7 linked regions of the Homo sapiens genome follow. The protein of the gene in region 5 purifies or fractionates together with the protein of the main gene of each other region. This does not show direct contact. Each region holds a gene or a part of one and is shown on either strand. Other genes may lie near its edges. The genes, in order: RDH11, SLC25A51, DHCR24, NDC1, SLC6A3, GNPAT and EXD2.

What was found.
Region 1: the proteins of SLC6A3 (region 5) and RDH11 purify together in Homo sapiens (affinity purification with mass spectrometry; one large-scale study listed by BioGRID and IntAct). This does not show direct contact.
Region 2: the proteins of SLC6A3 (region 5) and SLC25A51 purify together in Homo sapiens (affinity purification with mass spectrometry; one large-scale study listed by BioGRID and IntAct). This does not show direct contact.
Region 3: the proteins of SLC6A3 (region 5) and DHCR24 purify together in Homo sapiens (affinity purification with mass spectrometry; one large-scale study listed by BioGRID and IntAct). This does not show direct contact.
Region 4: the proteins of SLC6A3 (region 5) and NDC1 purify together in Homo sapiens (affinity purification with mass spectrometry; one large-scale study listed by BioGRID and IntAct). This does not show direct contact.
Region 6: the proteins of SLC6A3 (region 5) and GNPAT purify together in Homo sapiens (affinity purification with mass spectrometry; one large-scale study listed by BioGRID and IntAct). This does not show direct contact.
Region 7: the proteins of SLC6A3 (region 5) and EXD2 purify together in Homo sapiens (affinity purification with mass spectrometry; one large-scale study listed by BioGRID and IntAct). This does not show direct contact.

Annotation. Positions count from the first base shown.
Region 1 is NC_000014.9:67,678,604-67,682,594, forward strand, and holds part of RDH11 (retinol dehydrogenase 11), read right to left. Parts: intron 1-3,991. UniProt on the Homo sapiens protein: Retinol dehydrogenase with a clear preference for NADP. Displays high activity towards 9-cis, 11-cis and all-trans-retinol, and to a lesser extent on 13-cis-retinol.
Region 2 is NC_000009.12:37,897,497-37,901,487, forward strand, and holds part of SLC25A51 (mitochondrial nicotinamide adenine dinucleotide transporter SLC25A51), read right to left. Parts: intron 2,455-3,991; 5' UTR 2,333-2,454; intron 1-2,332. UniProt on the Homo sapiens protein: Mitochondrial membrane carrier protein that mediates the import of NAD(+) into mitochondria. Mitochondrial NAD(+) is required for glycolysis and mitochondrial respiration.
Region 3 is NC_000001.11:54,866,696-54,870,195, forward strand, and holds part of DHCR24 (delta(24)-sterol reductase precursor), read right to left. Parts: intron 1-3,500. UniProt on the Homo sapiens protein: Catalyzes the reduction of the delta-24 double bond of sterol intermediates during cholesterol biosynthesis.
Region 4 is NC_000001.11:53,792,907-53,796,897, forward strand, and holds part of NDC1 (nucleoporin NDC1), read right to left. Parts: intron 3,899-3,991; coding exon 3,783-3,898; intron 374-3,782; coding exon 323-373; intron 1-322. UniProt on the Homo sapiens protein: Component of the nuclear pore complex (NPC), which plays a key role in de novo assembly and insertion of NPC in the nuclear envelope.
Region 5 is NC_000005.10:1,414,101-1,418,091, forward strand, and holds part of SLC6A3 (sodium-dependent dopamine transporter), read right to left. Parts: intron 2,102-3,991; coding exon 1,998-2,101; intron 716-1,997; coding exon 591-715; intron 1-590. UniProt on the Homo sapiens protein: Mediates sodium- and chloride-dependent transport of dopamine. Also mediates sodium- and chloride-dependent transport of norepinephrine (also known as noradrenaline). Regulator of light-dependent retinal hyaloid vessel regression, downstream of OPN5 signaling.
Region 6 is NC_000001.11:231,257,927-231,261,917, reverse strand, and holds part of GNPAT (dihydroxyacetone phosphate acyltransferase), read right to left. Parts: intron 1,412-3,991; coding exon 1,235-1,411; intron 1-1,234. UniProt on the Homo sapiens protein: Dihydroxyacetonephosphate acyltransferase catalyzing the first step in the biosynthesis of plasmalogens, a subset of phospholipids that differ from other glycerolipids by having an alkyl chain attached through a vinyl ether linkage at the sn-1 position of the glycerol backbone, and which unique physical properties have an impact on various aspects of cell signaling and membrane biology.
Region 7 is NC_000014.9:69,189,851-69,194,440, reverse strand, and holds the start of EXD2 (exonuclease 3'-5' domain-containing protein 2), read right to left. Parts: upstream 2,944-4,590; 5' UTR 2,850-2,943; intron 2,671-2,849; exon of another isoform or gene 2,402-2,670; intron 1-2,401. UniProt on the Homo sapiens protein: Exonuclease that has both 3'-5' exoribonuclease and exodeoxyribonuclease activities, depending on the divalent metal cation used as cofactor.

The sequences.
Region 1 (3,991 bases), on a different chromosome or scaffold from region 5:
CATTTTAGATCTCCTCGCTAGACCACCTCTCATCAGAATGCTTTGTTTGATATATAATGCATACATTTGGTCTTTATATTCCCCTATTTATATAATTTAATATTAGTGCCTGCCTGACACCCATGTATATCCATCTTCTTCAAGTAAGTCCATAAGGCCCATTCTACAGAGCCTTGGACAATGTCATATAGCTGAGATCCTGCTATTCACATTGGTCAGAGATGCCTGGAGTAGTAAAAAAAAAAAAGAAATGCTTATTTCTGGACTCCTTGAAGTTATACTGTTAGTAAACTCATATGAGAAGTAAAGCCAGCTTCGAAAACAACAAAAGGAAAAGGCGACACAGAAAAGAAATGGTAAAACCAAGGTACGAGGTGTCTTGGTCCATTTTGTGGTACTGTAACAGAATACGACAAACTGGGTAACTATAATGAGCATACAGAAACTGGCTTATGATTATGGAAGCTGAGAAGTCCAAGATCAAGGGGCTGGCATCTGATGAAGGCCTTCTTGCTGTGTAATAACAAGATGGAAGGCATGACATGGGCAAGAGAGGGAAGGGGACACAAGTCATCCTTTAATAAGGAACCACTCCCAAGATAATGAACCCGTTCCAGAGATAATGGCATTAAACCATTCATGAGGGCTGCCCTTGTGACCTAATTTACCTCTTAAAGGCCCTGCCTCTCTATACTGTTGTATTGAGGCTTAAGTTTCCAACATATGAACCTTGAGGGACACATTCAAATCATAGCAAAGTGTTTCATATACCCTCTCTTCATTGCTGTAATTAATTCCAAGTTTTTTTTTTTTTTTTGGAGGCGGAGTCTCACTCTGTCGCCCAGGCTGGAGTGCAGTGATGCGATCTCAGCTCACTGCAACCTCCGCCTCCCAGGTTTGAGCAATTCTCCTGCCTCAGCCTCCAGAGTAGCTGGGATTATAGGCGCCTGCCACCATGACTGGCTAATTTTTGTATTTTTAGTAGAGACAGGGTTTTGCCATGTTGGCCAGGCTGGTCTCGAACTCCTGACCTCAAGTGATCCACCTGCCTCGGCCTCCCAAAGTGCTGGGATTACAGGCATGAGCCACTGCACCCAGCCTGTAATTCCAAGTTTTATAATTTTATAATTCCGATGCAGAAAATTTTCTTAAGGACAATTCTGACTCATTTTTGTATTCTCTGGATCTGGTATACATCTGGTAAGCATTCAGTCAAAGTTTTAAAAAAAATGATTGAATGTATTACAATCTTTAGTCATGTGAGGAAACAATTTTTAAAAGTATACTATTTCAAGAAAATTGCTTCCTCAGTATCTAAGCAAATTCTGAAGGTGAAAGAGTTGACAAGTCTGAATTAACTATATATGCAAACTCTTAACACTATGTCAAGTAAGACAGTGGGATTCAAAGTGTGCACCACAAACCAGCAGCAGGAGCATCAACTGGGAGCTTGTTAGAAATTCTCCAGCCCTACTCCAGACATACTGAATGAGAATCTCTAGGGTTGTGGTCCAGGAATCTATTTTCAACTAGTTTTCCAGATGACTCTTGAACACACTAAAGTTTGAGAAATACCATTTCAAAATATCGTCACGTTTACAAAACAAGTCTTATCAGTACTTCTGTTTAAGAAGACTCACCAGTATGACCAGTACAACTTGCCATTTCCTAGTGAAAAGATCATCAGTGAGAACCACAAGGCTCTGTATCTCTCTGGAAATGACTCAGCCTTTGTAAGCCTCTGCATCCTCCACTGCACTGTGCCTTATACTCTTCATAAGGTTACAGTTAAGAGCAAAGAACACAGTTGACATGAAGGTTCCTTGTAGGCTATAAAAACTAATCAAATACTACAGCAAGAGCTTTCTGGTTGTTTTTTTTAGACAGGGTCTCACTGTTGCCCAGGCTGGAGTGCAGTGGTGTGATCGCAGCTCACTACAACCTCCCCAGGCTCAGGTGATCCTCCTATCTCAGCCTCCCAAGTAGCCAGGACCACAGGGACACGCCACCACGCCTGGCTAATTTTTGCATTTTTTATAGAGATGGGGTCTCATTATGTTGCCTAGGCTGGTCTTGAACTCCTGGGCTCAAGTAGTTTGCCCACCTCAGCCTCCCAAAGTGCAGGGATTACAGGCGTGAGCCGCCGCGCCCAGCCAAGTAAGAGCTAGTTAAGTGTGCCTATGGCATCAGCATGGTCACAGTATTGACATTTCCAGGGGGATTTTGCTAAGAATTAGTATAGGTAAAAGATAAACTAATTTCAAAACTTACTACAATGCTATAGTAATCAAGATAGTGTGATACTGGCATAAGGACAGACATACAAATGAACGGAACAGAAAAGTGAAACATAAACCCTTATATTTATGGTCAATTGATTTTTGACAAGCTTACTGTTATACTCCAATTGTGTTCCCCCAAAATTAATATGTTGAATCCCTAACCCCCAGTGTGACTGTATTTAGAGAGAGGGCCTTTAAGGAGGTAACTAAGGTTAAATGAGGTCATCAGGGCGGGGCCCTAATCCAACAGGGCCTTATAAAAAGAGGAAGAGACACCAGGAGTGTGTGTACATAGAGGAAAGGCCATGCGAGGGCTCAGAGAGAAGGCATCCATTTGGAAGTCAGGAAGGCAGGCCTCACCAGAGACCAACCAGGCCAGCACCTTGATCTTGGACTTTCAGTCTCCAGAAGTGTGAGAAAATAAATTTATATTGTTTAAGCCACCCAGTCTGTGGGATTCTGCTATGGCAGCCTTAACAGACTAATACAGATACCAAGACAATTCAATGGGTAGAAAACTGTCTTTTCAACAAATGGTGCTAAGGCACTGGATATCCACATGCAAAAGAATGAAGGTTGACCCCTACCTCATATCATATACAAAAATTAGTTCAAGGCCGGGTGTGGTGGCTCATGCCTATAATCCCAGCACTTTGGGAGGCCGAGGAGGGGGATCACTTGAAGTCAGGAGTTGGAGACCAGCCTGACCTACGTGGCAAAACCCCATCTCTACTAAAAATACAAAAATTAGCCAGGCATGGTGGTGTGCACCTGTAGTCCCAGCTACTCGGGAGGCTGAGACAGGAGAATTGCTTGAACCCAGGAGGCGGAGGTTGCAGTGAGCAGCCTGGGTCACAGAGCAAGATTCCGTCTCAAAAAAATAATAATTATAAAATAAAATAAAAATAGTTCAAAACAGATCACAGACCTATGTAATGCTACAACTATAAGACTATTAGAAGAAAACATAGGGGTTGCTATAGTTTGAATGTATCCCTTAAAAAATCACATGTTGGAAACTTAGTCCCTCTGCCTTCATGAACAGATTAATTAATAAAAGCTTTGCCCTCATACCTGGATTAATGTCACTATCATGGGAGTGGGTTTGTTCTTGCTTGCCCTCTCACCATGTGATGCCCTCTGCCATATTATGACACAGCAAGAAGGCCCTAACCAAATGCCAGGCACCATGTTCTTAGACTTCTCAGCCTCCGGAACCATGAGCTAAGTAAATTTCTTTAGAAATTACCCAGTCTGTGGTATTCTGTTTAGTAACAGAAAACTGTCTTTACTAAAGACAGTAGTAAATCTTTGTGACCTTGGGTAAGGCAATGATTTCTTAGATATGACTGCACAAGTGACAAAAAATAGATAAACTGGACTTCATCAAAATTTAAGTTTTACATTTCAAAAGATACCATTAAGAAAGTTAAAAGACAACCCACAGAATGAGAGAATATTTGCAAATTATATATCTGACAAGGAACTCGCATCTAGACTATTAAGAACTCTTGTAACTCAACAATAAAAAGACAATTATCCAACTTAAAAATGGGCAAAGGACTTGATAGACATTTCCCCAACAAAGAAACAAATGAACCAAAAAGCGCATGAAAGAATGTTCAACATCATTAGTAGGAAAATGAAATGAAAATAAAAACAAGATATTCCTTCATACTCACTAGGATGGCTAAACTCAAAAGGAGAGA
Region 2 (3,991 bases), on a different chromosome or scaffold from region 5:
GTGAACGTTTTAGTTTCCACCATGTAAAAGATCACTTGCAAAAAATTTTGCCTTCTCTTTTATAATATGTGTAATTCTTTCTTCTTATTGAACTGATAAATACTTCCTGAACAAAATTAAATTATAATAAAGGATTATAATAAATTATAATTATAATCCCTATATATAATTACATATATATATAATTATAGTTCTTATATTTTTCTTGACACCTGTGGGAACTCTCCTAGGGATTATCATTAAGTTGGCTTTCGGTTTTAAACAGGAAGTTCTTGTCATCTGAGTGTTCATAATCCAGGTCCTAGCAGTTTTCAAGTTTACACAGGGAAACAAATCATCAAGACACAGAAACGTTCACTGATCAGCTGAGTCATATATGATTTATTCCACTCAAGTATCCCTCCTCCCTATTTATCATCTACCCCTGCCCATCTGTAGGACTCTACTGTAAACATGAAGTGCAGGAGGCCTTCCTTCTGCTATCACATAATTTCATCTCACAAATCATGCCAAAAACCCCAAGACTTCAATCTATATTCATTCTAAGAATTAGTGGAGCTGCAATTATAACTTAAGCTCCTGCCCCCAACTATTAACTATGAAATTGTGCTTCCCATTAAAAATGGATTCCAGGCCAGGAGCAGTAGTTTACACCTGTAATCCCAGCACTCTGGGAGGCCGAAGCAGGCAGATCACTTGAGGTCAGAAGTTCAAGACCAACCTGGCCAACATGGCAAAACCCTATCTGTACTAAAAATACAAAAATTAGCCGGGGGTGGCCGGGTGCGGTGGCTCACGCCTGTAATCCCAGCACTTTGGGAGGCTGAGACGGGTGGATCACCTGAGGTCAGGAGTTCAAGACCAGCCTGACCAACATGGAGAAATCCTGTCTCTACTAAAAATACAAAATTAGCCAGGCGTGGTGGCGCATGCCTGTAATCCTAGCTATTCGGGAGGCTGAGGCAGGAGAATTGCTTGAACCTCGGAGGCGGAGGTTGCAGTGAGTTGAGATTATGCCATTGCACTCCAGCCTGGGCAACAAGAGTGAAACTCCATCTCAAAAAAAAAAAAAATTAGCCGGGCATGGTGGCATGCACCTGTCATCTCAGCTACTTGGGAGGCTGAGGCAGGAGAATTGCCGGAACCCAGGAGGCAAGGTTGCAGTGAGCCAAGATTGTACCACTGCACTGCAGCCTGGGCGACACAGCAAGACTCTGTCTCAAAAATAAATAAATAAATAAAATAAAAATGAATTTCATTTTTCTAGTCAACTGATAAGTCAAACTGAGAGAATTTTCAAACATGGGAAGGAAATATACATTTATTATTGTTGTACTGAAGTTCAATCACCTCCACACCTTCCCACCGCCAATAACTCAAGAGTCTATCTTAAACTTTGGTCAAATGCTTTTAGAAAGCTCCTGAGATGATCATACAAACACTGGAGACAGCCAGTGTAATATTTAAGAGTACAGCCTCTGGAACCTACTAATTACCTACTTAAATCCTAGCTCCACCACACATGTACTGTGTGACCTTTGACAAGTCACTCTATAGCTTATTCTCTTTATAAAACGTGGCTATTAACTACCTCATAGACTAGCTCAATTAACTGAGCTAACAACATGTAAAGTGCCCAGGACAGCAGTCTAGTGTACAGTAGGAACTCAACAAGGGCAAGCTATTTTATTATTCTTTTCTATCTTTTCTGACTTATTCATTTGGTGTATTATGTTAGCATATTTCTTGGTGATTACTCACTCTTGCAATATGTGGATAAATGCTACTTGGCCGTGGTGAAATATTCTTTCATCATACTGCTAACTTCCATTTACTAATATTTTAAAATTTCATATTACTGTTCATAACAGATCATGTTGTCATTTTTTTTTTCTTCTTTTACAAGACAGGGTCTCACTCTGTCACCCAGGCTGGAGTGCAGTGGTACAATCATGGCTCACTGCAGCCTCAAGCTCCTAGACTTAAGCAATTCTCCCAGCTGGGACCACACACGTGCGCCACCATGCCTGGCTAATTTTTCACTTTTTTGTAGAGACAGGGTCACTCTGTGTTGCCCAGGCTGGTCTGAAGCTCCTTGGCTCAAGCAATCCTCCTGCCTCAGCCTCCCAAAGTGTTGGGATTATGGGCATAAGCCTTGGCACTCAGATAAGTTTTCAGTTTTAATACTATCTTCACATCAAGTGCCAGTGTCAATGTTCCACTGGCTTTGTAAAAAGAATATGTGATTCCCCGCCCCCCCACCCCCATCATACTGTAGAACAATTTAAATCTTATCAAAATGATGTGTTCCTTGAAGTTTAATTGCATTCACCTGTGACATCTGAGCCTGGAGTTTGGCAGGATGATAGCTTTGTGATAATGTTCCCAATTTCTTCCATTGTTATTGTTCTGTTAGGTTCTCTCTTCTTGAGTCAATTTTGATAACTGGATTTCCTTAAAAAAAAAAAAATTCTGGTTTAATTTATATAGCCTTTTTTTTTTTTTTTTTTTTTTTTTTTTTTGTAGAGACAGGGTCTCACTATGTTGTCAACGGTGGTCTCAAACTCCTGGGCTCAAGTGTTCCTCCCACCCTGGCCTCCCAAAGTGTTGGGATGACAGGCATGAGCCACTGCTCCCAGCCTATTTTTATTTTTAAAGACAGGATCTTGGCCAGGTGTGGTGGCTCACGCCTGTAATCCCATCACTTTGGGAGGCCAAGGCAGGCGAATCATGAATGAGGTCAGGAAATCGAGACCATCCTGGCTAACACGGTGAAACCCCATCTCTACGAAAAATCCAAAATTTAGCCAGGCATCGTGGCACGCACCTGTAGTCCCAGCTACCTGGGAGGCTGAGGCAGGAGAATTGCTTGAACCCGGGAGGCAGAGGTTGCAGTAAACCAAGATCACAGCACTGCACTCCAGCCTGGGCGACACAGCAAGACTCTATCCAGAAAAAAAAAAAAAAATGACAGGGTCTTGTTCTGTCACCCAGACTGGAGTACGGTGGTACGATCATGGCTCACTGCAGCCTGGACCCCTGGGGCCTCAGTCTCCTGAGTAGCTAGGACCACAGGCGCATGCCACCATGCTTGGCTAACTTTTAAAAAACATTTTTTTAGCAGAGAGGGGGCCTTGCTATGTTGCCCAGGCTGGTCTTGAACTCCTGCCTTGGCCTCCCAAAGTGCTGGGATTTACAAGCCACTGCACCCATCCAACACTTGCTGTTTTAAAAAATTACTTCTAACCTGTGTACTTATGTTCCCTTTTTTCTTGAGCAGGGTTATCAGTTTATCTAATTTATAACCTTACCACTCCTAGCAAAGCAGCAGCTTGTGAATTACCAATCTTACTATTTCTCAGTTTTGTTTTGTTTTTTTGAGACAGAGTTTTGCTCTGTCACCTGGGCTGAATGCAGTGGCTACCTCGCAGTTCACTGCACTTACTGCAGCCTTGACCTCCTGGGCTCAAGCAATCCTTCCACCTCAGCCATCTGAGTACCTGGGACCACAGGCCCGCACCACCAAGCCCAGCTAATTTTTGTATGTTTTGTAGAGACAGGGTTTCTCTACGTTGCCCAGGCTGGTCTCAAACTCCTTGGGCTCACATCATCTGCCAGCCTTGGCCTCCCAAAGGGGACTACAGGCATCAGCCACCATGCTCACCTAGTTTAAAAAAAAAATTTTTTTTTTGAGACAGAGTCTCACTCTGTTGCCCAGGCTGGAGTGCAGTGGCGCAATCTTGGCTCACCGCAACCTCCACCTCCTGGGTTCAAGCGATTCTCCTGCCTCAGCCTCCCAAGTAGCTGGGATTACAGGCATGCCACAATACCCGGCTAATTTCTGTATTTTTAGTGGAGACGGGGTTTCACTATGTTAGCCAGGCTGGTCTCAAACTCCTGAGCTCAAGTGATCCAGCCTGCCTTGGCCTCCCAAAGTGCTGGGATTACAGGTGTGAGCCACTGTGCCTGGCTTATTTTCTTGTAATTCTTA
Region 3 (3,500 bases), on a different chromosome or scaffold from region 5:
TGGATCTCTGGCCTCCAGCACTTGCAGCTTATCTGTGTGCCACCCGCTTGTGCAGGCCCACCCTGCTGGTAAGGCCACCCTGCTGGTGAGGCCACTCTGCAGGGAGGAAACTGGGGCTAAAGAGCCTCTTTGCCCAAATTAGTTTTGGTGTGGATGGTATGGGGCAGCGCAAAAAACACTCACGCTGGCCTCTGCCTGCTAATGTGAACAGGGGAACCCAGCAGGAAACAGAGCAACCTGATCTAACCCCAGGTGAGGTGTGTCACATACCTGGCAGTGGCAGCAGCTGCATAATGAAAGTGAGACTTAGGGCCACCTGGATACAGGCGCTCCTGGTGCTCACTGATGCATCAGGAGCCATGCAGAGAAGCCCAGGACATGGGAAAGAACCCAGATAGTCTGTCTTTTCCAGGCACACACCAGCTGAGGAGGCCAGGTGGCTGCATGAGCTCCAGTCCACCCCAGCCCTTGACTGCAAGCCACTTCCTATCTCTGGGCCTCCTCTGTGAAATGGGGGTAGGCTGCTTCTCACAGGATTGCAGCAATGTTTACACGGGGCAGTGCCTGCAGAGGGCCCATCACAGGGCCTGGCACACAGGGACAAATTCCTGAATGCTTAGAAACAGAAATGTTTGGAAGCAATGCTTCTAAAATGAAATGCCCAGATGTCTAATGGCATCCACCACTCTGCCCCAGCCCTGTTCCCTCAGGTATCAGGGTCTTGCTCACTGGGGCACTTGGCAAATATCCCTCTGCTGCTGATTCTGGGAGGGCCTTTGGGTAAGGCTCTCTGTGCCTCACAGTCTTCTCCTTGGGAAATAAGGGAATCAGATCAGGTCTCCAAATATTTCAAAAGCTGGGCAAACCCCTCTGCCAAATCATAATCTTAGGGAGCATCTAATACATCAAATGGATGGCAGCAGAGCCACTTTGGGTACAGTGGGGGTGGTGACTCCCCTTGGTCCCATCCCTCCTCAGCTTTCCTACCCCTGAGAGCCTCAAGGGAACACCTCAGAGCAGCTGGAAAGCTCTGGTCTAGATGTCCTTGCTAGGTGACTTGGTGCTAGGTGACACACACTGTCTGAGCTTTGGCCTCAGGCAGATCCAGGGGCCCAGGAGGGCCAGAGCACTTCAGCTCAATGTCCGGTATTGCCACCGCTGTTCCAGGACCTCCAGCACTTACCGCAGTGTCCCACAGGGAGCAATGTTTGCATAGTGCTAAAGTCTGCAGGCTGATATGTCAGGGAACCGACACTGAACCAGGAGTCAGAAGCTGGAATTTAAATCTGTTCTGTGCTAGCTGTGTGTCTTCAGAGAAGTCTCTTTCCCTTTCTGGGCCTCATTTCCTTATTTGTAGAGAGGATTGTACCGGATGATTTTATAGCCCTTCACAACTTTAAAATGTTTTAAGTATGTATATAGGTATAGATTAAGAGTCTTAAGGGATGCCTATCCTTTGATCTGCGATTTTATGTTAAGATATTACTCCAATTGGCCGGGCGCAGTGGCTCACGCCCGTAATCCCAACACTTTGGGAGGCCGAGGTGGGTGGATCACGAGGTCAGGAGATCGAGACAATCCTGGCTAACACAGTGAAACCCCATCTCTACTAAAAATACAAAAAATTAGCCGGGCGTGGTGGTGGGCGCCTGTAGTCCCAGCTACTTGGGAGGCTGAGGCAGGAGAATGGCGTGAACCTGGGAGGTGGAGCTTGCAGTGAGCCGAGATCCCGCCACTGCACTCCAGCCTGGGTGACAGAGCGAGACTCTGTCTCAAAAAAAAACAAAAGATATTACTCAAATTACAGACAAAAGATGTTCATTGCTCCATTAATTAAAGTAATAAAAAAATTGGAAGCAACTTAAATTTCCAACTATGGGCAGCAATAGGGCATTCATTTCCTCAGTGCAAGGTGCAATGCAAGGTTGGCCATTCTAATTGGGATTCTTTAATTCTAATAAGAATGGACATTAACAGTGATGGTTATGAAGGCAATGTAATAGTTCTAATAAAAGATGGATATTAACAATGACGGTTATGAAGGCAATGTAACAACAGGGGGAAATGCTTATCACAATAAACAAGAAAAAGGCTGGGTGCAGTGGGTCACGCCTGTAATCCCAGCATTTTGGGAGGCCGAGGCAGGCGATCACCTGAGCTCAGAAGTTCAAGACCAACCTGGGCAACATGGCGAAACCCCGTCTCTACTAAAAATACCAAAATCAGCCAGGTGCAGTGGCATGCGCCTGTATTCCCAGCTACTCGGGAGGCTGAGACAGGAGAATTGCTTGAGCCTGGGAGGTGGAGGTTGCAGTGAGCCAAGATCGCACCATTGCACTCCAGTCTGGGTGACAGAGTGAGACCTTGTCTCAAAACAAAAAACAATAAACAAGAAAAGACAAATGTGAACCAAGTGATCACTGCTGAAGACAAACAAACTGCAAAATGCTGCAAAGAGAGGCTCACCCTCACAAGTGATCCAAGAACTGCAAAATAAAACGAGATACTATTTTTAACGCTATCAGATTGGCAAAAATGAAAGAGTGATCCTATTTAGTGTTGGCAAGAATGTAGGGAAAAAGGTGTTCTCACAGACCATTACTACAAGTAGGCATAAACACAGCTCTTCTCGAGGGCTGTTTGGTCATATCTATTAATATTTAATGTGCTCAAACCTTTGTGTAACAAAGTCCATTTTTCTGACTCAATCCTACACAAATATTTGTACAGAAGGACAGGATAAATGTGAGTCTTAAATCTTCAATGCAATCTTATTTGTAAGAGCAAAACAGTTTATGCAACATAAATGTCAGTAAGGGCTAAATTAGGCCAATTATTTACATGCAAAAATGGGATATTACAGAATGAAATGAAGACATGCACACATACATATACACACACACACACACAGAGAAATAGGTCTCGGCTGGGTGTGGTGGCTCACACCTGTAATCCCAGTACTTTGGGAGGCTGAGGTGGGAAGACTGCTTGAGGCCAGGAGTTCAAGACTAGCCTTGGCAACATAGCAAGACCCCATCCCTACAAAAAAATTTTAAAAATTAAAAAATTAACCAGGCCGGGCACAGTGGCTCGCACCTGTAATCCCAGCACTTGGCTTGGGAGGCCAAGGCAGGCAGATCACCTGAGGTCAGGAGTTCGAGACCAGCCTAGCCAACACGGTGAACTCCATTTCTACTAAAAATACAAAAATTAGGCAGGCATGGTGGTGCATGCCTGTAATCCCAGCTACTTACGAGGCTGAGGCATGAGAATCGTGTGAACCTGGGAGACAGAGGTTGCAGTGAGCTGAGATCACGCGCTGCACTCCAGCCTGAGCGACGGAGTGAGACTCCATCTCAAAAAAAAAAAAAAAATTTTTAACTGGACATGGTGGCACACGCCTGTAGTCCCAGCTACTTAGGAGGCTAAGGCAGGAGGATTGCTTGAGCCCTGGAGTTCAAGGCTACAGTGAGCTGTGATCGTACCACTGTACTCCAGTC
Region 4 (3,991 bases), on a different chromosome or scaffold from region 5:
CACCAGATAGCCACACAAATGTGTTCACTTTGTGAAGATCCAGACAGCAGGAAGGGGTCTGTGTTGCCTATCAGCACAAAGCTGCCAGCAGCCAAGAGATACGAGAGGCAACTAGAGAGTCAAGCTTCAGAAGCCACTGAAGTGAGATGTGTGTCTAGGGCAACTATTGTTAAAACGGAGGTTCAGTGAAGCACTATGCAAAGCTGCCTAGCTTGCTAGGATTAAGCTATAAAATATTTACAAGTCAGATCCTATCTGCTACTTTATTTCATATTTCATTTCCTCCCTCCCCATTCCCAACGCTATAACCACATATTCTTACCTTACTGAAAAAATACATTATCAGCACCCGTTTTGACAAGAAATTCTTAATCTGAGTTGGAAAAAAGGAAGAATTAACACATTTACCTTTTAAATTCTATTCAAATATAACACATTTCCTAGTTCTTCCAGACAGTAACTTAAATGAAAAAATGAAACACTTCACATCTTGTGGGCAAAGAATAATAATACTTAAACAATACGCCATGTAACTAAATACCTTTGTGCTACAAATTGGACAACCAAGATGAGCCAACTAAACTGTATTCCCATGTATACACGTTTAACCCCCAAATTAGAGCCCTGACATAAAAAAAAATTAATTAATTCTAAGTGGTTTTGGTGAAATTTTTTTCTTTTTTCTTTTTTCTTTTTTATTTCAGAAACAGGGTCTCGCTTTGTCACCTAGGCTGGAGTGCAGTTTTATGATCACAGCTTACTGCCACCTCAAATTTCTGGGCTCAACAGATCCTCCCACCTCAGCCTCCTGGGTAGCTGGGAATACAGGCACACCACCATGTCCGGTTAATTTTTAAATGTTTTTGTACAGACAGGGTCTCACCATCTTGCCCAGGCTGGTCTCAAACTCCTGGACTCAAGCAATCCTCTCACCTCAGCCTCCCAAAGTGCTAGGATTACAGACTGGAGATATTTTTCAAGGCCACATTATTTCTCGATTCTCTATAACTGTCCTGCCCTTTAACCTTTTAATACCCAAAAAAAGAGTATGTTTCTCTCACAGGGAAAAAAAAATCTTTTTTTTTTTGAGACAGGGTCTCACTCTATCACCCATGCTGGAGTGCAGTGGCACATTCATAGCTCACTGCAACCTCTGCTTTCTGGGCTCAGGTGATTCTCCTACCTCAGCCTCCCAAGTAGCTAGGACTACAGGAATGCACCACCACACCCAGCTAATTTTTGTATTTTTAGTAGAGATGGGGTTTTGCCATGTTGCCCATGCTGGTCTCGAATTCCCGGGCTCAAGCAATGTTCCCACTGTGGCATCCCAAAGTGCTGAGATTACAGGAAAAAAAATATCTTAAGACACAAAGTAGTTTTCTACTAGTTGACAATTCCGGGGGAAAAAGTGTTCTTAGTATCAGCTAAAAGCTAACCCAACTAACTTAAAAGTGAATCTGCTCCTACCATACTCTCACCCAAAGCTGCATGACTAGTCAGAAGGCTGCAGCAAGCAGCACGTGTCTGGTTGGGTAGAAAGTGACACGGCAGTACTAATGGCATATAGAGCCGTATGGGATCCCGAAGTTTATGAAATGCCTTTAACCATTCATTCCCTATTAATCAGTCATTCCATCAGCAAACATGTTATAATTTCTCCCATCTTAAAAAATAAAAACATGACTGGGCGTGGTGGCTCGCGCCTGTAATTCCAACACTTTATGAGGCTCAGGCAGGATGACTGCTTGAGGCCAAGAGTTTGAGATCAGCCTGGGCAACATAGAGACTGTGTCTCTACAAAAAATAAAAATTAAAAAAATTAGGCAGGCATGGTGGCAGGCACCTGTAGTCCCAGCTACTCAGGAGGCTGAGGTGGGAGGATCACTTGAGCCCGGGAGTTCAAGGCTGCAGTGTAGCCATGATCATACCACTGCACTCCAGCCTGAGCAACAGACAGACCAAGAACCCATCTCAAAATTTTTAAAAAAGTTCCTTGACCCCTCAATTCCTCCCAGCTATTGCCCCATTTTTCTGTTCCACTTACAACAAATTCCTTGAAAAATGTGGTTTTTCTTGTGGTCTCCAATTCGTCTACCAATCTCTCCTGAACTCATGCATTTTTTTGTCCCCACTACTCCAGCCAACAGCTCTTGTCAAGGACTCAGTGACCTCCGCATTTCTAGCTCAACAGTTAATTCTTAGTTCCCGCCCCATGCTACCCATCAGCAGCATCTGACACTCCCACCTTCTCCTCCTTGAAACTCTTTCTTTTCTTGGATTTCTACCCACCTCAGTCTCTGTTGCTATTCTTTATCTCCCAAACTTTTAGCCATTGGAGGGCCCCTTTCTTGGATATCTCTTTTCTTCTGTATTTACATTCAAGAGTTTGCATCGAGTCTCATGCTTTGAATACTATCTATACTCTGAAAACTTCCAAAGTTACATTTCTAGCCCAGAACTTTCCCCTACACTACCGCTATATGCCTAATTTCTTACTAAGTATTTTCACCTGGTTGTCTCATAGGTATCTCAAAATTGGCTTGTCCAAAATCAAACTCCTGATTTCCCTCCCCTCACCTCTATCAAATCTCCTTCTCCAGAATCATCAGTAAATTCCAACTCAATAAATTGCAACTATATTATTCCAGATCTTCAGGCCAAAAACCTTACCAGTGAACACTGACTCTTTCTAGTATACACCACAACCAAACCATAAGCTAATCCTATTCCATCTAACTTAAAATACATACCTAGACCTTGACCACATCTTACAGCCCCCACCACTACCACTCTGGTCCCAGATACCACCATCTCCCACTAGATTACTTAACACCTTAACACCGTCTCTGGGCTTACATGCCTACCTTGCAAGAGTTTAGTCCCAACACAGCCCCTAGAGCAGCACTTTCAAAATATAAGTTACATCATATCATTCTTGTGGGCAAGACCATACGGTGACTTTCCATCCCACTCAGAGATGAAGCCAGTCTTTACTACAGCCAATGAGCCCTGGGTGCCTGCTACCTTTCTGATCTTATCACCCACTTACCACTCTCCCCTCACTCACTCTGCTCCAGCCACACTGGTATCCACATTGTTCTTCACACAAGCCAAGGCCATTCCCATCTCAGATGCACTGGGCTGCTCCCAGCTCTCCCTTCAGGTCTCTGATCAATCATTGCCTTATCAATGAGACTTCCCCTTATCACTCCACATAAAATGATACCCTCTCCCTTAGGAACTCTCTGTCTTCCTTGCTCTGTTTTTCTAGTTAAGACTTATATCAAATTTCTTCCTTCTTATGCATGTTTTCCATATCTTGAATATGACCTGTTGAGATGCATCTTACAGTCAATAGCACGTCATGGGTTAAGGCATCTTTTTTCTTAATAGCACATAAGTCTTATAATTAATGATATTTTATATTTCAGAGAAACAGAATATAATACATTTGCTTACTCACTGATTTCCCCTCACTCGAATGTAAATATTACATGGGCAAGGACTCTGTTTTGTTTGCTTTTTTCCCAGTGCCTAAAAGCACACCTTGGATATATAAAGAACTCAAATATTTCTTACATGAAGTTATCAGGTCAAGTCATATGAAATTACAATGTGTATAGCTCAAACCAGTCAAATATTGGCTGTTTCATTTGAGTCAATACACGAAGCATAAAAAAAAAAAAAAAAAAGCTTCTTATTCCTGATGACTTACTCATGTGAGATCCTTAATGTTCTCAATTTTACATGCAAATATAAATCCTATAACCATATCATCCTACCTGTTCACGTTTATTCTGAATCCATGAATAAATCACACTGGGTTGTCTCATTGTCTTACCCTCAGCACTAATAGAGGTAGATGGAGAAGGATTAGAAAATTCAGTCATTTGCTGATCTATTTTTAAAAAAGAAAAGGCAAGATAAGAACTTAGGCTGTCTGATCCTCTGCAACATGACATTTAAAATCTTAAAAAATATATAATTCTCA
Region 5 (3,991 bases):
TGCTCTGTGGCCAAGCTGATGTTTGCGGCATCCCAGCCTGCCTCCAGGTGTTGCTGGAACAGCTCATTCCTCCCCTTCCCTGAGCTGCATGTTCCCACACCGCGTGGCAAGCAAACATCTAGAGGGCCCTCAGTGACAGCATCTACGCCAGACCCTGGTGGGGCAGCCTCATGTGGCATCTGCAGGGAGCAGTCGAGGGACTGAGGCACCAACTATGCTGCTCAGCTGCATTTGGGCTTGAGGTTCCCCAGCCCAGGGTGGAGGCCCCGAGAGGCACAAGGCAGGAAAGGCACTGGGTGGGGGGGCCTGGAGGGGCAGGGCGGAGAAGGCACTGGGTGGGGGGCCGGGAGGGGCAGGGCGGGGAAGGCGCTGGGTGGGGGGCCTGGAGGGTCAGGGCGGGGAAGGCGCTGGGTGGGGGCAGGTCTGTACTGGGATGTGTACCACCATCCTTCAAGAGTGAGGCAGCAACTCTCACTGAAGTCGCTCAGGGCCCATGCGTCTCCTTCCTCTTTCACAAGGAAAAAGGCTTTGCTGAGAGCTCGGCGCTGGTGCTACACGGAGCAGGCCCAGGTGCAGCAGGAGGGGCTCACCGTCCTTGGCCACGTCCCCGATGGGCACACTGTGCTTCTGTGCCATGTACCCCAGGAAGGAGAAGACGACGAAGCCGGAGGAGAAGCTCGTCAGGGAGTTGATGGAGGTGGTGACAATCGCGTCCCTGTAAGAACAAGACACGCCGTCTCAGGAACCAGCTGAGCTGCAGCAGCTGCAATTTTCCAGTCATTATTCTTAATTTACTGTGTCTGGGGAAGGGGGCGGGAGGTCTTCGGAGGGGCTACTTTTCCCAGTGAGCACGGCCAGCTCCTTAGCAGCCTGGCAGAGCTGTCCTTGGGCCACCTTGGTCCCCTAGCTGAGCTGCTCAAGGCTCAGCCATCAAGGCTCAGGGTGGGCAGAACAGACGGCCACCCCTGTGCCCCGCGAGTCTTGCTGTGGACACCTCACCCAGGGCAGATCTTCCAGAAGCTCTAGGAGCACACACCTCCCGGGGACCTCGCTAAGATGCAGATCCTGACTGGGCGGGTCTCATGGGGTCTCGGGGGCTGTGTTTCCCATGAACTCCCAAGGGCGCTGGTGCTGCGGGCCTGGGGGCCCCACTCTGAGGGCTGAGAAACCAGAGAGCTGGAGGCAAGCCGAGGACGAAGAGGGAGGGTCCTGGGGTCGGTCAGGGCACCAGCGTCCTCCTCCTGGGTTCCTGTGTGGCCTGTCACTGGGGTGGAAGGACCACACACTTCATCTGCAGAGCACCTGGACCCAGGTGGACGCAGGTGGGCTGCGGGCAGGCGCTGCCTCAGGACCTGCCTTCCAGCGCCCACTCTCAGTGAAGCCTGCTTGTGGTCTGCCTGGCCATTCTGCTGCACACACTGTCCTTGTATTTTTACCGTGTTTCTAGCCTCATGATGTGAAAGAAAGTAAGCACAAGTCCATAAAGGTCAAAGCAAGCAGATCCCGGATAAAATTCTGTTTCTGTTTTTAGAAGGATTTGGGGTCCGGCACGGGGCTTCAGGTGCCTGCCAGTAAGTAACACGGGGTGCATATGGGATGGGGGGACACACTCAGGGGGTTGTGAAGCTGGACCCTGAGCGAGGGAGGACAGAGACCCCCCGGGGCTGGTGTGAGGGAAGAGGGTGTGTCCTTGTGGAGGGAGGGGCTGGCCTTGCCACTTGGGGCCCTCAGTGGGGAATCTGGCCGCAGGTCAAACCTAGGCAGGTCCCTCCCAGGAGGCGACACACCCACTGGCTTCAGTGCCTTCTTTAAAGTTGAAATCAAAATCGTGTTGGGAGCTGCCTCGCTGTCGCTTCTGTCTGAAAGGCCACGCAGCTCACAGGTTTGCGGGTTCAGTGGATCCGCCCTGTTCTCATCCAGGGACACCCTATTTCTGGAAGTCAGCGACCTCTCCCTAGTATTGATGAGGCCCCTGCCTGGCCCTGCTAGGGGCTCACCTGTAGCAGTTGTTGGTGAACTTGTTGTAGCTGGAGAAGGCGATCAGCACCCCGAACCCCACGCCCAGGGAGAAGCACACCTGGGTGGCCGCGTCAATCCAAACCTGCAGAGCCAGAGGGCGGTGAGAGGCTGTCCCAGGAGAACGCAGGCCACAGGCAAAGGACCTGAGCACCCTTCCTGTCCCAGCCCCACACTGAGGCCTCTAAACTCAACACCATCCTCAAGAAGTAAATGGCAGCAGACGACTGGTGGAAGATGCAGCCTCAGGAAGTGAACCCTCCCGGGCCAGCGGCCTGGAAGAGCCTGAGAAGCAGGGGGCTGTCTGTGTTCATTGATCTGGGATTCCCCATGGAGTATCAAGGCAGCGATTCCACAGAACCAGAGGTGCCCTGCTCCATAGCCCTCAGAACAGCATGGACTCATCCACACACGGCATGACCACAGCATCCTAATAACCCTCGGAACAGCACGGCCTCATCTACACAAAACATGACCACAGTGTCCTAATAACCCTTAGAACAGCACGGACTCACCCACACACAGCATGACCTCAGCGTCCTAATAGCCCTCAGAACAGCACGGACTCATCCACACACGGCATGACCGCAGCGTCCTAATAGCCCTCGGAACAGCACGGACTCATCCACACACAACATGACCGCAGCGTCCTAATAGCCCTCAGAAGAGCACGGACTCATCCACACACAACATGACCGCAGCGTCCTAATAGCCCTCGGAACAGCACGGCCTCATCCACACATGACATGACCGCAGCGTCCTAACAACCCTCGGAACAGCACAGATTCATCCACATGCTGCATAATGGTGGCACCCTGATAACCCTCAGAAAGTCATGAACTCATCCACACACAACATGACCGCGGCGCCCTGATAACCCTCAGAACAGCATGGACTTATCCACACTCACACCAGCCCTAGCGGGGTCTCCATCCTCCCTTGATCAGGGTCCAGCTTCACAACCCCCTGAGTGTGTCCCCCCATCCCATGTGCGCCCTGCTGCATGATGGCAGTGCCCTGAAACCCTCAGAACAGCACAGACTCAACCACAGGCTACATGATGGCGGCTTCCTGATAACCCTCAGAACATCATGGATCATCCACAAGCTGCATGATGGCGGCACCCTGATAACCCTCAGAACAACATAAACTCATCCTGAGGCTACATGATGGTGGCGCCCTGACAACCCTCAGAACAGCATGGATCATCCACATGCTGCATGATGGCAGCACCCTGATAACCCTCAGAAAGGCATGGACCCATCCACATGCTACATGATGATGGTGTCCTGATTGGACGCACACCAGCAATGCCTGCTTTGTATCCTTCCCAAAACATGAGCAGTACAGGTGCACAGTGGCACCTGGGCATGGCCAGGAGCCCACCTGCAGCTTAGACACTGGTGCTGTGCCTGCCCAACTCGGTGGATGGCACCCACAACTCTGGACGTGAAAGGAAAGGTGGGTGGGTCCACGATTGGACCATTGTGGTATTTTAAAAAGTCAGCCACAACCTGCTAAGGTGAGGGCACTGCGGAGACCATTCAGTGACTCAGATGCCCACCTTGCCCTTCCCTGGGCCTTGGATGGGGGAGAAGGAGCAGCCAACCCCCCCTTGGAGGCATTTGAGGGACTGGTCAGTTAGGGCTGTTCCTGCAAGTCCCTGGAGCCCATGGTACAGGCCTGTGGGCCAGGATGCTGAGGCAGAGACACCAGATGCTCCTGCTGGGGAGGCCAGGTGGGTCTCAGGGCATCCCAGGTCCCAGGTCAAGCTTGCCTGAGCTTGACTGAGCAAGGGAACTGGGTGCTGCAGAGGGGGCGGGGCCCTCTGTCCTTTGGGCAGCATGTCAGAGCCTCAAGGCAACCCCAGTTCCTGGGACAGTGTGTTTGGAGGCAGATGGCCAGGCCCCGCAGTCAGGACTCTGCAGGTGGCCAGTGTTTCAGCATGAGGGGAGGAGCCAAGCCGAGAGTGGCT
Region 6 (3,991 bases), on a different chromosome or scaffold from region 5:
AAAACAGTCAGTAGGAAGAAGAAATATTTGACAGGAAAGTAAATGACTGAATTAAAACAAAATATTAAAAGGGATGAGGAGGAAGGCAAGTGAAGTTAAGAGCTTTCCTAGAAGAAAAAAATATAAAACACAAATAAGTAAAAATACTCTTCATAAGGAAAGCTCTTTATGAAATTAGAAAAGTCATCATTTGGCAATCATTAACATAATAATTAATTCAGGCAAAAATCATCAGTGGGTGCAAAAACGAGTGGGGTAAAGTATGATGCAAAACAGGGTATTTAGCCATTTTCAAAGAGTCTTTTCACAAGATATTCATTAATTATAAAGGGAAAAAATAATAACTTTACAGCAGAGAAACCTGGCAGTCATAACGATAACCAACTGATGGAAGTGAAACATCTCCAGTAATGAAACCGACAGGCACCATGCATTGCTGACACGACCCACTGAGAAGAATGCATCGCTTCCGGGGTGTTCCTAGCAAAGGTACACAACCCGAGCCCAATACTGAGATAACATCACTCAAATTCAAACCATTTCACACTTCAAAATAATTAGCCTGTTCTTTAAAAAAAAAAAAAATTAGCATGAAACACAAATACAGATACTAAGGAATTATTTTAGATTAAAAGAGTCTAATATGGAAGTGGATACAGAAGAAAGTTGAACACTTTCTAGGATTTCTAGCGCAACACATGAGCTACGATTTTCTTTAGCTAGACAGGACATGACTGGGACAACTGGTGAAATATGAGTCAGGTCAGTATTACTAGTATTTGTTCAATGTTAATTTCCTTATTTTGATACTTGTACCATAAGATAATGCCCTTAATTATAGGAAAAACACAGCAGAGTATTAGGAAAAGGATAAAGGAAATGCTGTAAGGGAATCTAGGTGAAGTATATACAGGAATTCTTTGTATTTCTTTTGTAACGTTACTGAATATCTGGCATTAAGTTAGTCTATAAGTCTTACTTGACTAAGTTAGTCTGAAGCCTGTAGGTCTGCAGTTAAAAGGAAACAAAAAAACAGAAAACAACCTTCAGAGATGCACATCCTCTTCTGCCTAGACTGGAGGCCTGATGATTAGGCCCTAGGCTTTTGATTGACCAAGTGAGCTGTCCTTGAGTTGATTAAATTGTGAGGGGTTGAAAAAGAGACTGTTTTTTTTTTTGTTTAATTTTAAGATGAGACTTTTATTTCTTTATTTTTTTAATAATCAATACTCACTTTCTGAATACCTTCTTCATTTACACACACCTTCGAGAAAATTTGTTTAAATACTTTGCTCAGGGTGAAGGCACAAAACCGAATGGCTCCAAGACGCAGTTTGTGACTCATTTCATCTAAGATCTCACTCACTTCCTCTCGGAGGACATCCACAGATTGAAGGGATTCCTTGGAAAGCTAAAAGGAAAGGAAAAGCAGGAATAATTTCTAACAACAATAACAGAAAAGTCAGAAAGCTTTACTCAAACCAGTATGACTAGTTCCAAATGGATTAATCTTCTATAACTCAAAGATAGTGTCTTCTTAATTGACAACTTCCCAACACAGTCATAGTAGATAAATGAGCCTATTTAAAGAAGTTTAAAGGCCAGAAATTAAAAGAAAAATGGCTTTCTAGGATAGCATTTTAGAGTGAAGAAAACACTTCACCTTTCCATTTGGTTTGTTAATAAGTTTATATCCAAACTCTAAAATAAGTTGCTGCCCATGGTCTAGTGTCCTAGCAAATAGTGGCTTCTCTCAGTGTATTGCTGCAGTGCTCCACCAGCTGGCTCAATGCTATTACAAGGTAATATACAAGATCACATTGAAATTACCGACTCAGACTACATCAGATCTATCAAGTCACAGGCACACAAAGTCCCAAGCTATCAAAGGATAATTAGTGAAATAAAGAATCTCACAACGGAACTTATTTTATTCACATGGCCCTCTAGCTCTTTTGTAAAGAAAATAAAATGTTTGCTGTGTGCTGGGACTGTCAAGGGCCTGGAGATGAGCAAGTCAGTTTCTATCCTTGAGGAAGCCCTGATTTGCCCATTTTCATTGTCCCCTAAACAAGCACTTTGAAATGAAGTCTGTAGGATAAGTAATCCTTATGCTTCCCAAAGGAGAGTGCTTTGCTTTAGGATGAGCTCAGAAGCTCAGAGGACAGGTGTTGGCACCCCAATTACATGTAGTGAAGAAGTATCTTACCCTTTTTTTTCATTGAGGTGAAATTCACACACTATAAAATTAACCTTTTTTTTTTTTTTTTGAGACGGAGTTTCGCTCTTGTTGCCCAGGCTGGAGTACAATGGTGCAATCTCGGCTCACCGCAACCTCTGCTTCCCGGGTTCAAGCGATTCTCCTGCCTTAGCCTCCCGAGTAGCTGGGATTACAGGCATGTGCCACCATGCCCAGCTAATTTTGTATTTTTAGGAGAGACGGGGTTTCTCCATGTTGGTCAGGCTGGTCTTGAACTCCCGACCTCAGGTGATCCGCCCGCCTCAGCCTCCAAAATTGCTGGGATTACAGGCGTGAGCCACCACACCCGGCCAAATTAATCATTTTAAAGTGAACTATTCAGTGGTATTTTGTACATTCACAAATGTTGTGCAACCACCATCTCTATCTTGCTGCATATCCTATCTTTTGGGGGGCTCAGTTCAACAGGGAGGAACTGGGATAAACTCTTTCCTCTTACCTGTGTTCCTTTGTTTTACTCAGGTTACCTGAAACAGTGATTGTGCCAAAAAAAAAAAAAAGTTTATAAATATAGTCAGAAGAGAACTCATACTGAATGGACTGAAGACTAAATGAACTGCTGAGGAACTAAAGACAGTGGCCACAGAATAATGGGAAAGTTTGAATGAGAAGTAAAGGGATGATATGAATTAAAGCAAAAAATGCTCTCCCTAGATGCAAAAGTCCTGGACCTGTTTTTTTGTTTTTATTAATTAGCATTCCACTTTTAAAAAATTGTGTTGGCTGGGCGTGGTGGCTCATGCCTGTAATCCCAGCACTTTGGGAGGCCGAGGCAGGTGGATCACGAGGTCAGGAGATTGAGACCATCCTGGCTAACACGGTGAAACCCCGTCTCTACTAAAGAATAGAAAAAAAAAAAATTAGCTGGGTGTGGTGGTGGGTGACTATAGTCCCAGCTACTCGGGAGGCTGAGGCAGGAGAATGATGTAAACCTGGGAGGCGGAGCTTGCAGTGAGCCAAGATAGAGCCACTGCCTCCAGCCGGGGCGACAGAGCGAGACTCTGTCTCAAAAAAAAAAAAAAAAAAAAAAAAAAATTGCATTAAAATACACATAACATAAAATATGCCATTTTAACCATTTTTAAGTATACAGCTCAGTGGTGTTAAAGCCTCGGACCTGTTTATAGACCAAATAGAAGAAGTCCCCTGAGAGAAAGGCTGAAGATAGAGGAAAGGGAGCAGATGCATGCCAAAGGTCTCAGAAGAGGCTGGACGGGATGACTTCCGACCACAGGGGTGTGGCTAGCTGTGACCAGGAGAGCAGGCGCCTTTTCTCTGAGACTGGACTAAAAGGGACAGATGGAAGAAGGGATCCTGAGGCTGCAGAATGTGGATCTGTATAACTCACCCACTCTCCCAGGAGCAGCCAGACACCTGGTTATAGGAACAGAGAAGGTGAGTTGGCAGATTCCAGGCTGCTTTTTTTCCTGGTCAGTCTGGAAGGAAAGATTGCAAAGGAGAATTAAGGGTTGGTGAAACAGTTACTCAGATAATCCTAATAACAGCTGGACAGGAAGAAAGGGCAGAGGGCAGAGGGCAGAACCAAGGGAAAATAGAGGAATCAAGGGACTGGTAAGAGGGATGAATTTCAGGAAACACAGCCATGAAAGGAAGTATAACCGTAAACCTATGGAAATAGTTCAAGCCAGAGATGGTACAGAGCCAAACAAGGGTAATGACAGGTGCTAAAGAGAAGGGCAGGGCAGGGTGATGGTTCAGTTTTGTTTTGGG
Region 7 (4,590 bases), on a different chromosome or scaffold from region 5:
CTAGGCCGGGCGCGGTGGCTCACACCTGTAATCCCAGCACTTTGGGAGGCCGAGGCAGGTGGATCACGAGGTCAGGAGATCGAGACCATCCTAGCAAACACGGTGAAACCCCATCTCTACTAAAAATACAAAAAATTAGCCAAGCGAGGTGGTGGGCGCCTGTAGTCCCAGCTACTTGGGAGGCTGAGGCAGGAGAATGGCATGAACTCGGGAGGCAGAGGTTGCAGTGAGCTGAGATCGCGCCACTGCACTCCAGCCTGGGCGACACAGCGAGACTCTGACTCAAAAAAAAAAAAAAGAATGGACTGACTGTTCGAGGTGACAGTATTTGGAAAACAACAATCACACACACACAATTCCAGAGGAATTAAAGAAAAAAAACTATTCCCACAAGAAGAACTTCAAGGAGAAAACAGAGCTTTAGGAGAAAACCCTCCTCTCTCTAAAAGTAGAGAAGGATTTTTCAACTTCAGCACAACTGACATTTTTGGCTGGTGAAATTCTTTGTTGTGGGAAGCTTTCCCGTGCGCTGTAGGATGTTTAGCAGCACCCTCGCTTTTACTCACTAGATAACCAATAGCAGCACCATCCTAGTGGAACAAACAAAAAATGTTTACAGACATTGCCAAATAACCCCGAGAGCAAAAATCTCTGCCATTTAAGAACCACTCGGATTGGGAATGATAGCCACAAAATACAAACACACACATAACAGACTGATAAATTAAAACCTAAAATTTTAAACTTTGTTTCAACAAAGATGCCATATAGTTAAAAGACAAGCAACAACTTAAAAAAGCAATAAGCAGGGAGTAAATATTATAAACACATATGAATAACAAAAGATCAAAATCCAGAACATATAAAATACTATTATAAATCAATAAGGAAAAGACAATCCAATAGAAAGAGATGTTTCTCAAAAGAGGAAATACAAATGGCTGACAATCATGAAGATGTTCAATCTCAATAGTAATCAGGGGAATGCAAATTAAAACAGCAAAGAGAAATCACTTTTCCATCCATCAGATTGGCAAAAACAAAAAAGATCGATACCATTAAATGATCAAAAGAGCATGGTGGGCCAGACACGGTGGCTCACGCCTGTAATCCCATCACTTCGGGAGGCCAAGGCAGGCGGATCACTCGAGTTTAGGAGTTTGAGACCAGCCTGGCAAATACGGTGAAACCCCGTCTCTACTAAAAATACAAAAATTAGCCAGGCGTGGTAGCGGGTGCCTGTAATACCAGCTACTCGGGAGGCTGAGGCAGGAGAATCGCTTGAACCTGGGAGGCAGAGGCTGCAGTGAGCTGAGATCACGCCACTGCACTCCAACCTGGGCAACAGAGCAAGACTCTGTCTCAAAAAAAAAAAAAAAAGAGAGAGAGAATGGAGGAAATTATTATCCACCGTGGGTGGCAGTTTGGCATTCCTAAATCCCCATACTCTCCCACCCAGCAATTCCACCTGCAGGTACCCATCCTTGAGAAATGCTCTCACATGGGCTCTCACAGAGGTGTGTGGGAAGGATGTTCTCCGCCATACTGTGTCTAACAATGAAAAACTGGAAACAATCTATGGAATCTTACATAACCATGGAATTTACAGAGCAAGTAGAAAGAATAGGTAGATCTCTAGGTACTGACAAAGAAAAAATTCCAAGACCCGTTTTTAAGCATAAAACGTCAAGTTGTGTAATGCATAAAACATGCATATTTGTAAAAGTTTAAAGCGAAATCTTACAAACATATATCTTATACGTACACATACTTGTCAAATAAATGCAAAGAAAAATACACACAAACTGACAACAGTTCTTATTTTGTGGGAAAGGGACTGGTAAAGAAGGTGGAGATGGAAAAAAACAAAATCAAAGAGGATCTGTCTTCCACACTCCCCACCCTCACCACCAAGAACATCAAGCTAAGAAAGATCTGTGTTTAAAATTTTTACATAATTTTGTTACAAGGCTTTATGCACGGACTATAACTAGAATATTTTAAAAATACATTTTTAAAACAAGCTCAACTTGACCAAATTTAATCCATCTTCCCCGCTGCGCCCCAACCCGCACTTCCTAATTCCTATGATTAACAAAACCTTTCAATTCCTTCTATCCTTGGAACAGAACTAAGAAAATAAAGTATAATTTCAATTTTGTGTTTTTGAGGAGAGGGTATATAAAGGAGTTTGAATGTTGGAATCATATCAAAAGCTTATCGGGGGATTGGTTTGTTTGTATTTTAAGGAGCAGATGTCAATTTTGTAATAAATAATGATTAAGGTTCTTAGTTTTGATCCATCCCAGGGATGTGAAAAGCCAAAGAGGTGGCTCCCGGCAAGGCCCAGAGCAGGGTGTGGTCTGGGAGGACAGGGATGGTAGCGAGGGTGGCGGCTCACACGAATCCAGGAGAGAAAACAGCAGCTGTTGCCGCGTCGAACCCGCAGCGCCCGAGGAGCTACCAGGTGCCGCGGGCGGGGCCTCCTTTTTAGCTGACTGGGACACGCAGCCTCGAAGGTCTGGTAGAGTCTCCCAGGGAGAGGGTAAGGGGGTCGAAAGGAGAGGCCCAAGGAGGGCGTGGGAGGCCGCGGGCAGGGGTGAGGCCCTCCTTGCGCACCTGGGTGCTGAACCGCCCCGCCGTGTGCGACGGGGGCGAGGGGGTCACGCCGAGGGGCGGGGAGAGGGGCAGGGCCAACTCGCTCCGGGACAGCGGGGGCCCCGCAATGTCACCCCCGTACACGGTAATATCCCCCCGCTCCACGACCCCTCTTAGTCTGCACTGGAAGCACCCCCTGCCCCGCGCACAATCCTGGTGCAAGGCTTCGCCGGCTTCTGAGCCTCACTTACCTGCTGTCTCGGACTGGGCCGCACACCTGCAGCGGGCTCACGTTAAAGACCTGGAACCTGTGCGGCCGCCTGCGCGCACCCACCCGGATTCACTAGGGCCGTAACCACTTCCGTTCCTGCGACAGGCCTGGAGGACGTAATCCCAGCTGGCGTGTGGGAACGGGCAACGCCATTTTGTACGGAAGCTACTGGGGCAGGTGATGCCTACCCAGTCTCTCTCCTCTGTTGAACAAAGGATCTGTTAAAATTGGAAGGGCTTAACGTCTTCTTCAGAAAAGTGACGCATTTGTTACTGGGATGGTATGTTTGTGTTTTGGTTTTGGCTTTGAAGGGAGAAACCTCCAGAACTCTCACAAATGTAATATGGGACATCGAATTTTCCTTCTTTAGTATCCTGCGTACTGTTTTTCTGCTAAACGATAACAGTAAATAGAAGGAAAGACACTGTATTTAAATAATGTAGTCTTCATTAGCAGTGCACATTATCCTATAGCCACTATAATAATTTTATGTACCCTCCTTTTTTTTTTTTTTTTTTTTTTTTGTAGATACTGTCTCCCTACATTGCCTAGGCTGGTCTCGAACTCCTGGGCTCAAGCGAACCTCACAACTCGGCCTCCCAAAGTGCTGGGATTACAGGCGTGAATGCCCAACCTATGCCATCTTTTATAGCGATAACCACAATACTTTTTGTTTATATATTAAATCGTTCATCCAATCAGTCTTTATTAGCAATTATATGTGAGGCAGTTAATCTGTGCTACATGCATGCTTTTCCTTTCTCATGGAATGTGTAAAACAGAAGGAGAAATGAGATGTGCATAAATAACCAATATAAGGTATAATAATAGCTACCATTTGTTGACTTTGTGCTCACCTGTTGCTAGGAACTTTGCAAAGCATTTTACTTATTTTTTCTCCTTTAATCCCCATAACAACCCTGTGAGGCAGTACTATTATTAGTGCCGTTTTACATAAAATAGAAAAAGGTTAAATAACTTCCTCAAGGTAATTCAGCAAGTAAGCACCGGAGTTAGGAATCAAACCTCATATTTCTGATTGCAGAGCATGTGGCCCCATCCTTTATACTATATTGCCTTCAATACAGGGGCAAATGTTTTAAATTCCATTGAATGAGTACCCATGGGGGAAATTTCCAGCTATTATAGAGGATTAACTCCCTGAATTTTTATCTGCTCCATCTTGAAACACTTAAAAAACAAAGGATAAAGAGGAAATGCAAATTAAAACCACAATGAGATATAGCTAAATGAAAAAGAAAATGTCAAGTATTGGCAAGATTGTGGAGCAACCACAACTCTCATATGCTCCTGAAGGGAACATAAATTGATGCAATCACTTTGTTTAACTGTTTGGCGGTATCAACTGAATCTGAATATGTGAAAAGACTTTGTTCCAACAATTTCACCCCTAGCTGGGGCACAGTGGCTCAACGTGTCATCCCAGCACTTTAGGGATTTTCACTGTGTTGCCCAGGCTGGTCTTGAACTCCTGGCCTCAAGCGATCCTCCCACCTCGGCCTCCCAAAGTGCTGGGCATCATGGTGTGCACCTGTAGTCCCAGCTACTCCAGAAGCTTAGGCAGGAGGACGTCTTGATCCCTGGAGTTTGAGGCTGCAGTGAGTTGTGATCACACCACTGCAGTCCAGCATAGGTGACAGAGCTAGACCCTGTCTCGAAAACAAAAACAACAAAAAACAATTTTACTCCTAGTTATATAT